Linked DNA regions of Homo sapiens: all the other regions are reported to be linked to region 1. Evidence: microRNA targets listed by miRTarBase, many of them from high-throughput screens and not tested one by one. Region 1 holds a microRNA gene; each other region holds the end of a gene's coding sequence. Distances are between the middles of the regions.

Region 1 (5,069 bases):
GGTCACCATTGTTGGCCATTTTGGTTCCTGCCTCCACCTGGGCCAGGTGGCACATAAATACACAAGCACTTATCTCCTATAAAAAGATTCCAGGTCATAGGGCTCAAACCAAGCTGCAAATAAAAGTGCCACATCGTGTCTGTCGTGTGCTTTTTGTTCTGATCTCAGGGCTTGTTTCAGACCTTGAATGGGAGGTGTTTGCTGGTTAACTAGGAGTTTGCTGGACAAACAGCACCCCACAGTTGGATTTGCTACGCAATTTTTATGAGTAAACATGTTTTTAAAAAATGCCTGTGGCTTGGCTTCTTCATCCTTTTGTTGCCTGTGGGTCTTGGAATGAAGGGGTGGGGGTGACAGAAACTAGGTTTTAAATCTGTATTAACTTGACACAGAAAAATATTTTGGAGAAAGGTTTATTCCTTTTAGTTCCTGCTGGCAATCTGGGACCCTCAGGGGTCAAAAACCAGGGAAGGGTTGGGGGAAGGTGAAGAGACCTATCCCCCTCAGAGGTCACTGGCTGGGGGGCAGGGCTTGGCCATTCAAGTGATCGGTATCCATCTGCAAAGCTGGAATCTCCTTTAGAGTGAGCTCCTAAGAAAAACACCACTCAGCCAAGGAGAGCTATTGTATTTTGCTGCCTGGGGCACATTCTGGAGGTGAAAACCGGTTTTTCTGAAGACTTGTCAGGGCCAGGCTTTGTTCAGAATCTGCCAATTTAGCCAGACTGGCTCCTTAAAGGAGACCCCTTTACCTGAGGCAGGGGCCAATTATAAAAAAGGCTTGTGGATGGCATTCCCTTCATAACTGGGTTGGACTTCCTTCAGACTTAGGAACTTTCTCTTGTTCCACACCTTCTCCTTCCTTAAAAAGGAGAAACATGGAGTAACACACACACACACACACACACACACACACACACACACGCACACCCAATCACACTGAATTGTAAAGAGAATGAAATCAGTGCTAAATCTATCAAAGCGTATCATAGACCCTGACAGCTGAGAGGTATTATTTGCTTTTTTCCTCCCAGATTTCTACCGAGCCTGGTGTTTTAAGCTATGTCTTGGGGAGAAGAGACCCATAGAAAGGCAATTACAATTGGTGAATGATTAATGTTGGATCTGACATTTTTATGTGTCAAATATGTTTAACTGCATTAACCTTTGCAGAATCTACACCCATACTATGAGATATATCTTGTATAGCATCGGAAATATCTGCAATCTGCCTTCACTTAAATTTTATTTACATTTACTTTATTACAATATAAATAGGTTTAAAAAATCTTTAATAGAGTGTTTTTACCCCATTCTGCAAGTTCTGCTTGCTCTGTGGGGAGTCTAAGGGCAGCAGGGTTCCTTGCTGATTGCAAATAGTGTCCCAGCCACCTGCCTGGGGACCCTAAAGAGAGAGGAAGCCAGTGTCAATTTTTCAAGTTCATGTCTCAGTTTTAGCCTAAAGGGGAGGTGGCTTAGAAGGCCGGGAGTTGGCATCCGATGGTATAAAACATAGAGGCAGAGAGGCTTTTCAGTAGACAAGCAACTTTTAGTTTTTACAAGTTACAGAAAACGCAAATTTTCATAGCATCAATTTTAGAAAAGAAAGATTAAGGTTCCCATCTGCGGTGCTTTTTCCAATCTGCCCATCACCCGTCCCTCTGAAGAAGCACGCACACTCCAGATGTCTCCTTCATTGATCACATTTCTCTCTGGCTGTCTCTATTCCTAAGTCAGAGTTACTCTTGCTGCTGCTGCTGCTGCTGCTGCTGCTGCTGCTGCTGCTACGGTGGTGGCGGCGGCGGTGGTGGCGGTGGCTGCCGAGGCCTCATGGTTGTCAGCTCCATGCCTCCTGAACTTCACTCCACTGAAATCTGGTTGGGTATGAGACAGACTCCGGTGGAATGAAGGACAAGAGAAGCACATGGATTGTCTGAGGATCTTTTTCTCAGAGGGTGGGGATGCATGTCAACCTCAGCCTGTAGACACTGCATTACCTGGCCAAAGGCCTTTGGCATCCCGGAATCACACATTTGGGAGATGTCAAGGACCTGAATACTCCTACCCCTCCCATAGGATCACATCCTCCAAGGAGGCTGCAGAGAGCTAGTTCAACACGTCCTTGCACCTGCTGCACAGACAGACAGTGCTGAGTTGGGGAGGTGGGTCTGTGGGGCCAGGGACTCTTGACTGTTTCTCGTTTTCAAAACAGCCACCCAGATAAGTCCATGTGGAACCTCCTCTGTGTTTACCTAGTTGGGATGTCGGTCACCCTCTCCCTTTGTCTAGGTCCCACTGTGTGTGCCATAACTGAGCTCGGTGTGGTTGGTCCTTTCTAGAGGAAACAAAGAAAAAGCAGGTGTTCTGCAATTGCTTTAGAAAAATCCAGCTACTCTGAGCTTGCTTACCAAGGCCTTGGAATGCAGGGGCATGGGCATTCCTCTCCACAAGGCACTGTCCAAAGAGCACGAAGAGCACTTTGCAACCCCGTTTGCCAATGTGAAATCCAGAAGAGATAGGTGAGGAGCTCAGGAAAAACCACAACTCCTGGCTGGAGCCAGGCCCATTCATGGGGGTGGGTGGACAGAGGAGGGTAAGACTCCTTGTTCTCACTCCTAAAGACTTATCTAGGAAGGACAGCCTCCAATGGCCCCACATCCTCCCCAAGATGTGCCTGGAAAATGATTCAACTATTTCTTTGTTGGTCATGAGGATGGAGGATTTAGGGAGGAAGAAAGCAAGCTAACCTGGCTTTCATAGACTGAGTCAAATAGGAAGGACGCAAAGTATCTAAGAGTTTTCTGCTCTGTCTTAAAAGAAATGCCCATCAACCCTTTGCGTGCTGTTGCTGCTCTGGCCTCTTCCTTGTTGTGTTCAGACATGCCCATGGCTCAGTGCAAGCCCCATAAAAGGCTGTTCTCAGCACCAACATGCAGGCTGGATGGGTTGGGGCAGATGCACCTTGTTGTTTGAAATACTTTCTTCCTGGGGCTTGTTCTGACCCGAAGCAGGGAGGCAGTTTCTCGTATGTGGCTCCTCCCCACGCATCTAGCCTTCTGGGCATTGGGTCTCTCTGAAAAAGGCCCTTAAGCAAGGGCTTGAGGTTTCTAGCTAGTGCTGAGAAGGAGTCACACTCTCCTTGGTCTGAATGTAAAGACTCTTTGCCAGGGTGAACACGGGGCTTGTTGGCAGGCAGAGATCTGGGTAGTGAGGGGAAGAAGACTGGTTCATCTTCTCCTGCTCTGCCTTCTTGATAAACACTCACAGTTCTCAATAATGAGAGGAAAATGCACCCTGCTTGTGAATTATCTGGACCAGATCCTCCTCCTGCACCGCCTTTGACCCATTCCCAGTCAAAGGGAAGAAAGAGGCCAGTCTGTTGGCTGTAATAAATAAATGATGGCCTGGGATGGTAGGAGGAAATGATGCCAGGAAGGCAAGATTCTTTGCCTTCTCTTTAGATTTCTGCTTAACTCCAAGAGCAAAAGGGGCAGTCAATTCTTCTCCCTCCAGACCCTCGGCACCCCGCTCTTCCCCTCCCAACATGTACAGTCCACTAGATTATTAAAGTCCTCACTCTGGAGTGTGCAGAGAGCCTCACCCTCATGTGGGGTCCGTACCCTCCAAGATGGGTACTTGAGAGATGACAGTGTCTGCAAAAAGCAAATGGGAGGTGGCATTAATGTCAGAGAGCCCCAGAAAGGTGAGTTCTTTCCTTATCACTCTCCCCTTGCTTTACAGACCTGTAGCTGCTACAGGCAGAGACAAAAAACCATGAGTCACAACCTGTATCAGGAGACTTGACCTGCTCTGGACTCCTTGTTCAAGATTCTTCTGCCCACTATGCCTTTGCCAACTGAATCCCCCAGTGGCCTTCACCATGGTTACATGGGTCTAGAGCCAAGCACATGCACGATCAGAGAACAAACCATGCATGGGCTCGCTACAGGGTAAGTCCATCCAGTGACCACTTTCTTCCCCCCAGCTGCCCTCAGGATTACGTCCCAAGTGTCTTCATAACATTAAAACCAACTTGAACATGAGACTCAAAGAATGAAACCACGTCCTAAATTTTCCAGTACAGGTGCACCCTGCACCCCAGGACTGAAAAACCAGCCAAATCTCTGTTCTTCTAGTTGAGTAAATCTCCACAAAACCAGACAGAGCTACAATCTTGGTGCTTAAACTGCTCAGCACCCACCTTATCACACCAATTCCTATTATCAGCAGAATTTACTGCCTGGGATCCCTGGAAATCCTTGAGAAAACACCAAAGTGGCTGAGGATTGGTTTAAAATGCAGCAGGTTCAGCTATTTTAGCCTTGGAGGAAGTTGATAATTGACTTGCAGTGAATATGGCATTTTCCAGTCTCCTCTTCCTGCCCAATGAGCCCCCTGATCTAGCCACTCATCTTTGTTTTTCCAAAGTTCCCCAAATCCACAGATTTCAGACTCACCTTTAAGTACGAGTACCTGTGCCTTGAGACATCAGGACCTAGCTTTGAGTTTGCTTCAAAATAAGAATTTTTTTTTTTTGTCATAAGATAATGCAGAACAGAGAGATGGCTACAGCCATGCAGATGAGAAGAAGAAAAGAAATTTCAAATCTTGGATGTTTCTTTTGCCCCTAAGGCTTGAGGACAGGGAACAAAAAATGAGAAACACTTACCCTATATAAAGCACCCAGTTCAGCAGGCCTGTGCGGAACAGAAATGACTCCTGAGGAAAGGTGGGGGCCGGTCCTGAATAGTTGATTTCTCTCTTTAATGAAAAAGAACATGAGGCCGGATGCGGTGGCTCACGCCTGTGATCCCAACACTTTGGGAGGCCGAGGCAGGTGGATTGCTTAAGCTCAGGAGTTCAAGACCAGTCTGGGCAACATGGTGAAACCCCGCCTCTACAAAAAAATACAAAAAATTAGTCAGGCGTGGTGGTGTGCGCTTGTAGTCCCAGCTACTTGAGGGGCTGAGGCAGGAGAATCGCTTGAACCTGGGAGGTTGAGGCTGCAGTGAGCCCAAGATTGAGCCACTGCACTCCTGCCCGGGCGACAAAGTGAGACCCTGTCAGAAA
Region 2 (5,069 bases), 200 Mb from region 1:
TGTAGCAAGATATCCTCAGTTGAAATCACAGAAAGCATTTTGCAGTGGTAGAGCCACTCTGGACCCCACAGAAGACACCTATGGTGGGGGTGGGGGGAGAGTTCCTGCCTCTGATCGTCCCTCAGAAGAAACAGGGGGTCACCTAGGCCCTTTCCTGTTGCACAGAGGGGTCCAGCGTCACACGGCTAGTAGGTTGGTATGGTGGGTGGTATGCTATAGTAGTTTTTGAACTTAAAAAAAGAAAAATCGGTAGACTTTTCTGATATAAAACAGAAAAAAGTGGGTTAGCACAAGACACAGGTCATAAAGACCTTACTGATAAAACAGTTTGCAGTAAAGAAGCTGGCTAAAATCTACCAAAACCAATAAGGCTTATTTATTTATTTATTTATTTATTTATTTAGAGGCGGAGTTTCGCTCTTGTAGCCCAGGCTGGAGTGCAATGGTGCGATCTTGGCTCACTGCAACCTCCGCCTCCCGGGTTCAAGAGATTCTCCTGCCTCAGCCTCCCAAGTAGCTGGGACTACAGGCATGCTCCAGCACGCCTGGCTAATTTTGTATTATTATTATTATTTTTTTTAGTAGAGATGGGGTTTCTCCATGTTGGTCAGGCTGGTCTCAAATTCCCGACCTCTGGTGATCCACCCACCTCGGCCTCCCAAAGTGCTGGGATTACAGGCGTGAGCCACCGCACCCGGCCCAAGATGATTTCTTTACTGTAACCTGTAAATTCTTCTCAGTTGAAACCCTGCCTAAGAAAACTGAGCTTCTCTGCTAGAGAGGGGTGGTGCCGGGCACCCTGCCTGCCTCTCTTCACCTCTCCAAATTCCTTCCTGATCTTCTGATGAGCTTTCAACTGCATGGTGGAAGATGCCTGGGAACCAGGGGCAGGTTTCTACAGCAAAACTCAGCTCAAGTACGAAACTAATTTTTCTGTACCTTTCTGTAATGCAACACACAAAAAGCTTTAGCATCTTATTTTTTAGAGAGAGGGTCTTGCTCTTGTCACTCAGGCTGGGCAGTGGTGCAATCACAGCTCACTGCAGCCATGACCTCCCAGGGACTCAAGCAATCCTCCCACCTCAGCTTCCCGAGTAGCTGGGAGGACAGGCATGTGCCACCACACCCAGCTTTTTTTTTTTTTTTTTGAGACGGAGTCTCGCTCTGTCGCCCAGGCTGGAGTGCAGTGGCGCCATCTCGGCTCACTGCAAGCTCCGCCTCCCAGGTTCACGCCATTCTCCTGCCTCAGCCTCCCGAGTAGCTGGGACTACAGGCGCCCGCCACCACGCCCAGCTAATTTTTTGTATTTTTAGTAGAGACGCGGTTTCACCCTGTTAGCCAGGATGGTCTCGATCTCCTGACCTCATGATCCACCCGCCTCGGCCTCCCAAAGTGCTGGGATTACAGGTGTGAGCCACTGTGCCCGGCCCCAGCTAATTTTCTTGTTTTTGCAGAGACGAGTTTACACTGTATTACCCAGGCTGCTGTTGAACTCCTGGGCTCAAGAAATCCTCCTGCCTTGGCCTCTCAAAGTGCTGGGATTACAGGCATGAGCTACTGCAGTGGGCCCTTGGGATAATCCTTCAGAGGTGAATTATTCTACTGAAGATTCTGGCCAGGCACAGTGGCTCATACCTATAATCCCAGGACTTTGGGAGGCTGAGGTGGGTGGATTGCTTGAGCTCAGGAGTTCGAAACCAGCCTGGGCAACATGGTGAAACCTCTTCTCTACAAAAAATACAACAAAAATTAGCTGCGTGTGGTGGTGTGCACCTGTATTCCCAGCTACTGGGAGGGCTGAGGCAGGAGGAATGTTTGAGCCCCTGAGGTTGAGGCTGCAGTGAGCTATGATTGCATCACTGCACTCCAGCCTGGGGGACAGCGAGACCCTGTCTCAAACAAAACCACCACAAAGAAGAGATGCCAATATCTTAATGCCAGGATTATGAGGCATTTTCTTTTTTGCTCACTTCTATTTCTAGGTTTTCTACATAAATGTGTTACCTTTTGATAAGAAAACCATAGATGGCGTTACTACTGTTGCTCCCAAGTTGGGGAGAACCTCACAGCTGAGGGCGCTTGGCTCTCTGCTGCCCTCACTTGGCCTCTCCTCGCCAGGCCGGGGTAGGAGCTGAATGGGCTGCTGGAAGCCTGAGCCTCAGGTTTAAACATGATGTTCCCAACATCTTGAGGACCCGAGGTCAGTGAGCTCAGAGGCGTTTGTGGCTCCCGCTGCAGGAAGCTCCTGATGGGAAGCCGTCCCAGCCCTGCACCCTCATCTGCCCTCAGGGTCTGGTTCAGGTTGGTCCTGCCGGCCCCTGGGAGCCGGTCCCCCTGCTCACTGGCTGTGGTCCTCCTGCCCGCTGGGCACTGGGCCAGAATGACAGCCCACCTTGGTAGAGCTCCCTCTGCGTTGTGCTGTGGCTTAAGGGTCCCCATATCAGCCCCGGATGGCCGTCCTGTTACTCCCGTGTCAAACTGAAGCCAACAGAAATGCAGATCCCAGTCACCAGAAAGGTGACCCCAGAGCTTGTGCTGTGACACCCTGGCCATTCCCCATCCCCGCCGCCTCAGCATGGAGCCGTGCAGCAGCTCTAAGCCCTCTCTGAGGAAGACGAGGTCTTTTTCACAACCTGACCGTGGTCCCTGCAGCCAGGGGCAAGGACGGTCAGGGATGGCTGGTGGGCTCAGGCTTTTCTGAAGAGCTGAGCTGAGCATTTCCTGCCTGGACACCCTTCTCTGCGCAGCAAACTCTGGGGTGTCCTTCCGGCCCAGGCTCAGCCAGGCAGCGAGTCTCCTGTCCAAATCCCTAAGCCCCTCCAGGGACACTGTCTGGTCACACTGTGGCCACCCCAACCCGAGCCCCCCACTCCAGAACCCCCCGTTGAAGAGGAAAGAGAAAGTGGATGAGAGCCCCCTTAGCAGGGACCCTGCCCTACCTGGAAGGCCCGAGCTGCCCAAGCAAACGAATACAGACAGCCAGCAGGCATCATTCAAAGGCTGTATCTTTTTTGGTTTCCTTTTTTGCTTTTGTAAAGAAAAATAAGGTTGTGTTTTCTGTTTGAAACAAAACATAAAACCCCCTCCCGCTGGGCCTGTTCCCTGGCTCTGGGGGATGCTGGGACCGCAGGTCTGGGCAGGAGAGGCCAGGCTGCCCGGCTGAGAGGAGGGAGCGCCCTCAGAGCCAGAGATGGAGTGCATTTGGGAATGGAGTTTGATTAAGCAAAAAATAAAAAACCTCGACACACACACACACGCCTGCTATACAGAAATGGGGACCAAGAGGCGCTGCCTCCGAGTTGGAACCATTGCTGGCAGCTGGACTCAAAAGTCCTGATGCTGTCCTGGGGCCCCCATTCCCCACGTTTCAGGGGTAGGCAGGGCAGGAGGCGGCATCCACAGCTCTCAGGACAGGAGTCAGGGGAGAGGAGGGTGACGTCAGAGCAAGCTCCTTCCCCACATTAAAAAAAAAAGTATTAAAAAAGCACCCAAAGCTTAAAAAAAAGAATCCTCCATGGCAGGGAGAGTTGGGGGCATCCTGCTTACTAGCAAAATGCCTGACCTGGCAAAATGTGTAGAAAAATAAAATTAAACTTTATCCCTGAATGGCAGAGTGAAGACCCTTCTTCCCGCCCCACAGTGAGTCTCAGAATCCACCGAGACAGCTGATTCCTCCCCAACTGGCACCAGCACATGACCAGCAGACACACACTGCCCCAGGCCCGTGTCCCAGGCCCAGGGTGGGACAGCGGAGGGGCTCTGATAGCCACGGGTGCACGGTCCCTCCCCGCTGCCTCACAGCATTGGGAGCGCCCCTCCTCAGTGCCAGGAAGGAGCCCCAGCAGGGGAGTGGGCAAGAGAACCAGGGGAAGATGGGGTTCTCAGGGGCTCCTGGGCAGAACTAGGGGAAGATGGAGTTCTCAGGGGCTGGAGGCAGGTGCCCAGTAGGGTGGTCGAAGGGGTGCAGTCTCATCTGAGATCTGAAGGCCCCCCGCCAGCCTGCCCTGCAGTTCCATGTGCAGCTGAAGGACCAGACGTGCAGGCCTGGAAACACAGGGCGAGGTGGGCCAGGGCGCTCCGCATTCTCAGGGTAATGGGGCTGCTTCCAGGAAGGTCAACAGAGGTCACAAAGCAGGGCACATGGGGCAGGGGAGGGTGGGGCAGGGGCTCGCGCTGGTCCTGGAGGCCCAGCTGGGCCTTTGGCTGCTCAGACCTGGGAGCTCTGAGGATCCCGGGAGCCCTTCTGCCCACTCCACAGGAAGGGGCAAGATAGGGCAGATGATAAGGACCATGCTTCCCCCTCCCCCAGGGGGCCTTCAGCTTAGTGGGGCTCTGAGGTTGCCCCAGGTGAGACAGGGGAGTACAGTACAAAGATGTGACTACGCCTGTGGGCGTGGGGCCAGAAGGCAGGCCGGGCAGCTCCTGCTGCAGTTACAGTAGTACTGGCGTCCCTGCCAGGCAGGGCTGAACTGTGTGGGGCACCCCAGGGTCATGCAGCCCCTTGGGGCTCCCTGGCTTCGGGATCAGAGTGTCAGCACCAAACACAACCGATGTCAGCCAAGGAGGTGAGTGGGCAGAGAGTGTGACCTCAGACACATGCTCAGCCCTGCAGTCCGTTAGGTGAGGAGGGGCAGGTGTCCTGAGGACAGTCACAGTCCAGTGAGGTCAAGGCCCTGGAGATGAGGGCAGAGGTGGCAGCCCCTCCAGGGAGGGTCCTGAGGCCGGCAGTGGTGAAGCAGCAGGCACCGGGTTGCTCCCCTCCGAGGGGCTCCAACGGTGGGTCAGCGCAGGCTCTGGTACAGAAACACCGAGGTGAACAGGGCGTTGGCGGCCAAGCTCACGGCCAGGAGGCCCCGGACCAGGGAAGGGCCGAAACGACCTGCAAAGCAGAGACCTGGTCAGAACATTGTTTGGGTGGGTGGGTTCGCTGTGCAGCTGAGCAGCCCCCTAGAGCATGCAGTTTGTGGGGAGCTCAAGGCTCTGCCCAGGGTACTCTCTGAGACTGGTGAGGCTCACCCCCAATTCTTCTCTTGGCCAAAGGCTTCCCTAGCAGGAAAGACCCCCACTCC
Region 3 (5,069 bases), not on the chromosome of region 1:
TTTCTTTTTTTTTTTTTTTTTTTTGAGATGGAGTCTCACTCTGTCGTCCAGGCTGGAGTGCAGTGGCACGATCTCAGCTCACTGCAAGCTCCACGTCCCGGGTTCATGCCATTCTCCTGCCTCAGTCTCCCGAGTAGCTGGGACTACAGGCGCCCACCACCACGCCCGGCTAATTTTTTGTATTTTTAGTATTTTAGTGTTTTAATTTTTTGTATTTTTGTATTGTTAGCCAGGATGGTCTCGATCTCCTGACCTCGTGATCTGCCCGCCTCCCAAAGTGCTGGGATTATAGGCGTTAGCCACTGTGCCCGGCCTGGGATGCACTCATTTCTTTAACACAGACTCACTTGGCACTAGCATAGTTACATGCCCCGCTCTGGGCTAGGCTTTGATGGTGCAAAGACAGACGTGGTCCCTGCCCTAATGGAGCTTACAGTCTAGTGGAGAGACAGGTAGTAAACAAGTAAATGATCTGAAATTGTGGTGATGCTAGGATGGCTGCAAGCGAGGAGGGGGGCAATGGAGACAAGGATTTAGAAAGGGAAAGGCTTCTCTGAGGAAGTAGGATTTAAGCTGAGACCCAGGAGATGGGAGCCTGTTTTCAACATGAAGATGGGGAGCCAAAGTGTTTCCAGCACAAGGAACTGTGTGTGCAGAAGCCCAGAGGAAGGAAGCCTGGTCCCTGAGGAGCTGGAGGCAGCCAGGGGCCTGGAGAGTCACCTGAGACTTCCATAGGGCTCTGGAAGGCAAGGTGAGATGTCTGGGCTTTGTGTGGAAGATGACAAGAATCTCTGACGTAGAGAAGGGACAGGACTGGAGGGAGGCCTAATGAAGATTGCACTTGGCTGCTGAGCAGTGGCAGGGAGGCGGGCACTATAGCAGCCACAATGCCTGGGCTGGGGCTGGTGGGGAAGGAAAGTGGACAGACTCAGGCTCTCCTCTGGAGGTGTAACCCTGGACTGCCTCTGGACCAGTTTGGGGAAAGGGGAACTCTAGAATGTGACATTCATGCATACACACAAATGGACTGTGTGATGTCCAGCTCCAGGGGCAGGGGGGCCACGCCCCGTTCCCTGCCTTGCTCAGCGTCCATCCATGGCTGTTCTGTGCAGGGTACATAGCATCCAGGATGCAGCATTAGCCCTGATCAAGGTTATGCTTCCCATGTGCTGGACCACAGGGCCTGTTAGGGCAAGCTGGGGCCTCCTTGTTTAATTCACGACAGGAGGAAGAGCTGGGTATAGGGACTCCACTGTCAAAAGCCCTGCCAACCAATGACACAAGCCAGCAAGGCAACCCCCTTGGCACAAAGAGACAGTGGGCAACCACGGGCCTGCAGAAGGACTTTTCCCCTCCGCACTCCTGGCGAGGGTCAGGTACCAGATACCTCACAGGCTGGGAGGCAGGGGCGGCATCTTTTAACCCCAAGCCTTGGGTATTTTTTGCTATAAGAGACAGCTGCAGGGTCCAATCTGCTGCCTTGACCCCTCCAACTCCCAAGAGAAACCCACAGCTAGGCATGGCAGATCAACGGGCTGAGAGCCAGTGTGCTGTGCTGGCACTTAGAGACATTTCCCAATGGAATCTCAAAAGGTTGGCACTGCTATTCCTGTTTTTACAGAAGAAACCGAAGTACAGAGACATGGAGTAGTCTGATCTTAGTCACACAGCACCTATCATATCACTCTGTCAGAACATGGCGCACTAGGAGGCAGACACACACGCACATTCGCTGTCTGTTCCCTGCCTTGTCAGGGCACCCAATAATGGTGGCTCTCTGTCCCCAGCATGGGGCCCAAGATGAGTCCTCCTTTAGTCAGAGGTGTGATTCTATCCCCAGTCACCAGGGCTTCTACCACAAATGAAGGACGGTGACCACCCTCAATGTCACTGCTGAACTGGGAAACCAGGAAAAGCTATATGCCTTGTGGGAACAGCACATAAAAAACATTTCAGATGGACAGGACTGGATGCAGTGAGTCCATCCTCTCCCTCCAAGAGCTGAATGGAATGGTTCAACCTCAATGGACCTGAGACGACTCTCTTCAATGGGTGAGGCCACTTCATCACTGTGCTTCAACCCAGAAGGATGAAGCTCATTGTTCTGTTCAAGAGTTGGCCGGGCGCCGTGGCTCACGCCTGTAATCCCGGCACTTTGAGAGGTCAAGGCGGGAAGATCACTTGATGTCAGGAGTTCAAGGCCAGCCTGGGCAACATGGTGAAACCCCATCTCTACAAAAAATACAAAAATTAGCTGGGCGTGGTGGTGCACACCTGTAGTCCCAGCTACTCGGGAGGGCTGAGGCGGGAGAATCGCCTGAACCCCAGAGATGGAGGTTGCAGTGAGCCGAGATCGTGCCCCTGTACTCCAGCCTGGGCGACAAAGTGAGAATCCGTCTCCAAAAAAAAAAAAAAAAAGAGTCAAGGGCCCTGACAGCTAGGAAGGAAGGCCCAAGAATGACTAGAGAGGAACAGATGAACAAAATCCCCAGGAGATTTGTCCACCAGGCCCAGGGCCTGAACTTTCTTTTTCTCAAACACAGATGCAATTCCAGGACAAAAACAAAAAACACTTAAGCTCTTTCCTTAACCAGGTCTTCTAGGACACATTCCAGGAATACGCATCGTGGTCCCCTACAGAACTTGACTCTAACCATCTTGGCCTGTGCTGGCACAGGGGTGACAATGGGAAGGCACAGTGACACCCTCAGGAGCGTAGGGACATGCAGGAGGGCCAACAGAAACAGTCCTTTCAAAACCACGCAATGCAATGGCTGCCTTGTCCTAAGGGCTAATCCCAGGAAAAGGAGCAGGCAGTGCTGCCCAGCAGGTTCTGGAAAACCAGCAGCCACTCGCTGATGGTGGCAATGTACTCCAAGTCCAAGAGGCTTCATTTGCTCATCTGGTTCCTCTGACCCAGGAACACATGGAATGGCTTCCACCCACCTCCCCACTTTGCTCTGATCCCTTCACTGCCAGCCCTACTCCCCGGAAGAGGAAAGAGAAAGGCACCACACTCAACGCTCTATCAAGAAGGCACTCAGCAGCCCCCACTTGACTTCTCAAATGGCGTGGCAGCCGAGGGGCCTTCTCCGGAAATTAGTAGTGGTAACAAGGAGGAGGGCACGTTCCAGAAGGTGGTCAGGCACATGGTGGTGCCGGAAGGGACACGTCTAGCGTAGCTGTGTGAGTCAAACTCCTGAGGTCGACACAGAAGTCCTCCCATTTGAGAGAAATGACCCCTCAATGAATATTTCTGAGACAACTAGTCCTCCTGCCCCATCCTGTAGCAGCAAGTGCCACAAGGTACATTTTGGTTTTTCTTTTCTTTACAACCTATTTCCCTTCATGCCTCAGTGACGCAGGGAGGGTGAAGGAGCAGCATGGAGCTCAGAGGCCTGCAGCTTCTAGAGACCCCAAGTCCTATCATCCTGTTTTCACAGATGCCTGCCAAGAGGGCCGTGACCACAATAATCCCACACAAACTCACAGCAAGCACAACTCAATCACAAGAATTTTTTTTCTTTTTTTGAGACAGGGTCTCACTGTGGCCCAGGCTGGAATGTAGCGGCACGATCATGGCTCACTGCAGCCTCAACCTCCAGGTTTGATCAAGTGATCCTCCCAGCTCAGCCTCCTGAGTAGATGGGACTAAAGGCATGTACCACCACGCACGGCTAATTTTTTTTTTTTTTTTTAATGTAGACACAGGGTCTCACTGTTGCCCAGGCTGGTCTTGAACTCCTGGGCTTAGGCGATCCTTCTGCCTCAGCCTCCCAAAGTGCTGGCATTACAGGTATGAGCCACCATGCCCAGCCTCGAGATTTTTAAGAGTAAAATTAAATCAGATGCTAGAGTCTACTAAATCTTTGAGGATTTTTCTTTCCTTTGTACTTCTGCAAAAAGGAATCCTTCATAATACTGGAAAAAAAAGATTTCTAATAACAAAACCCAAGAGTTCTGTTGTTTTCAAAGGAAAACACACCATAAGCTTTACAGAAATGTAGTAAATTAAAAAGAAGAGACCTTTGACTGGAACCCTTTCTGAGACGGGGGAAAGAGCAGGGGCTACTGGCAAGAGATGCCCTGCCCAAGAAAGAGACCTAAAAGCCTGTTGTGTCCACTCACAAGGCCACCCCTGGCCAGCTGTGCCCTGAAGGGCTGCCTTCAGGAACAGTCACCCTGCACCCCATTGGCAGTGGACAGTTTAGAAGCCCCCACTCCTTTCCACAGATAATCTGGGGAGCTAAGTAACCAATGGAAGAACACTGCATCCACCTGGCGTTGTCATCCACAGGATGAAATGCTGGTGGCAGAGCATAGAGCGAGCAGGAGGGCAGAGGCAACGACGCCTGCTGGGAGCCGGGCAGGATGCAGGGAGCCCGGTGGCCCCGACTCACCTGTGCTTGCTGTCCTTTCCATTCCCACGAGCACACTGCCCCCCTCACCCCCGCTCCGACTGCTCTGTGCTGAGGCTGCCTTTCGCGGTCTTGTTCTGCAAGGGGGGGAGAGGGCACGGAAGGGGAGGCTGACACGGGCAAAACCAAGAGGAGACAGACAGGTGGGAGAGGACAGTGCAGAAATCAGGGAGGGCAAAGGGAGGACAGGAGTGGCACATGGAAAAGGAAAGAAAAGGCAGAGTCAGTCCTGACCGACAAACAGGAGACATTCAGACAGGGTTTTCTGAGGCAAAATGTGACCCTTAAAAAGGGGAGTTCTAAAAATAACATGCAAATTAAGTAAAAATAAAGAGAATATAAGATCCTGTGACCACTCCCCGCCCTTCCCCAGAAATAATTTTTAAAGAAAAGCATAAGCAAGCATCTTTCAGGAGCATTTTGAGGGCAGACCTCTCTGGACAACCTCCTTCTAGTACTTTCGGCCCTACTAGATTTAAGACTGCGAGTGACCAGTGACCACCAGGTGTCAGTGTGACCTCAGCCAGAGACACAGTGCAGCCCCTGCAGGAAACATCAGGTGGCAGTGGTCTCCGTTCTGATCCTTTCTTGGGGCTCCTTCTCCATATACACCCTCCCCACACACATATGTGGTATCCACAAACAGACCAT

The links. Region 1 holds the annotated microRNA hsa-miR-205-5p (UCCUUCAUUCCACCGGAGUCUG, at 1,890-1,911, opposite strand). A microRNA usually pairs through its seed, bases 2 to 8, with sites in the 3' UTR of a target mRNA and lowers its output. Matches are read on the target gene's strand: a 7mer-m8 pairs with bases 2 to 8, a 7mer-A1 pairs with bases 2 to 7 and ends in A, and an 8mer does both.
Region 2: miRTarBase lists TMEM201 as a target of hsa-miR-205-5p. The part of its 3' UTR that is shown has no 7-base or 8-base seed match.
Region 3: the mRNA of TCF20 is a reported target of hsa-miR-205-5p. The part of its 3' UTR that is shown has no 7-base or 8-base seed match.

The regions. Positions count from the first base shown.
Region 1 is chr1:209,429,008-209,434,076 of GRCh38, reverse strand. It overlaps MIR205 (microRNA 205), which reads right to left and starts at 1,944; the gene lies at 1,835-1,944. It overlaps MIR205HG (MIR205 host gene), which reads right to left. Exons shown (of 4, transcript NR_145437.1): 1 at 4,989-5,069; 2 at 4,669-4,896; 3 at 3,601-3,652; 4 at 1,528-1,873. RefSeq lists enhancers at 1-505, 506-1,103.
Region 2 is chr1:9,612,796-9,617,864 of GRCh38, reverse strand. It overlaps TMEM201 (transmembrane protein 201), which reads right to left. Exons shown (of 11, transcript NM_001130924.3): 11 at 2,988-4,879. The coding sequence ends at 4,782. LOC124903837 reads right to left here and starts at 3,201. Exons shown (of 2, transcript XM_047436734.1): 1 at 2,393-3,201. The coding sequence starts at 3,201. RefSeq lists enhancers at 1,827-1,886, 1,896-2,440.
Region 3 is chr22:42,164,209-42,169,277 of GRCh38, forward strand. It overlaps TCF20 (transcription factor 20), which reads right to left. Exons shown (of 6, transcript NM_001378418.1): 5 at 4,401-4,528. The coding sequence ends at 4,445. Among named protein-coding and RNA genes, the nearest start is that of CYP2D6, 36 kb to the left of the region's middle.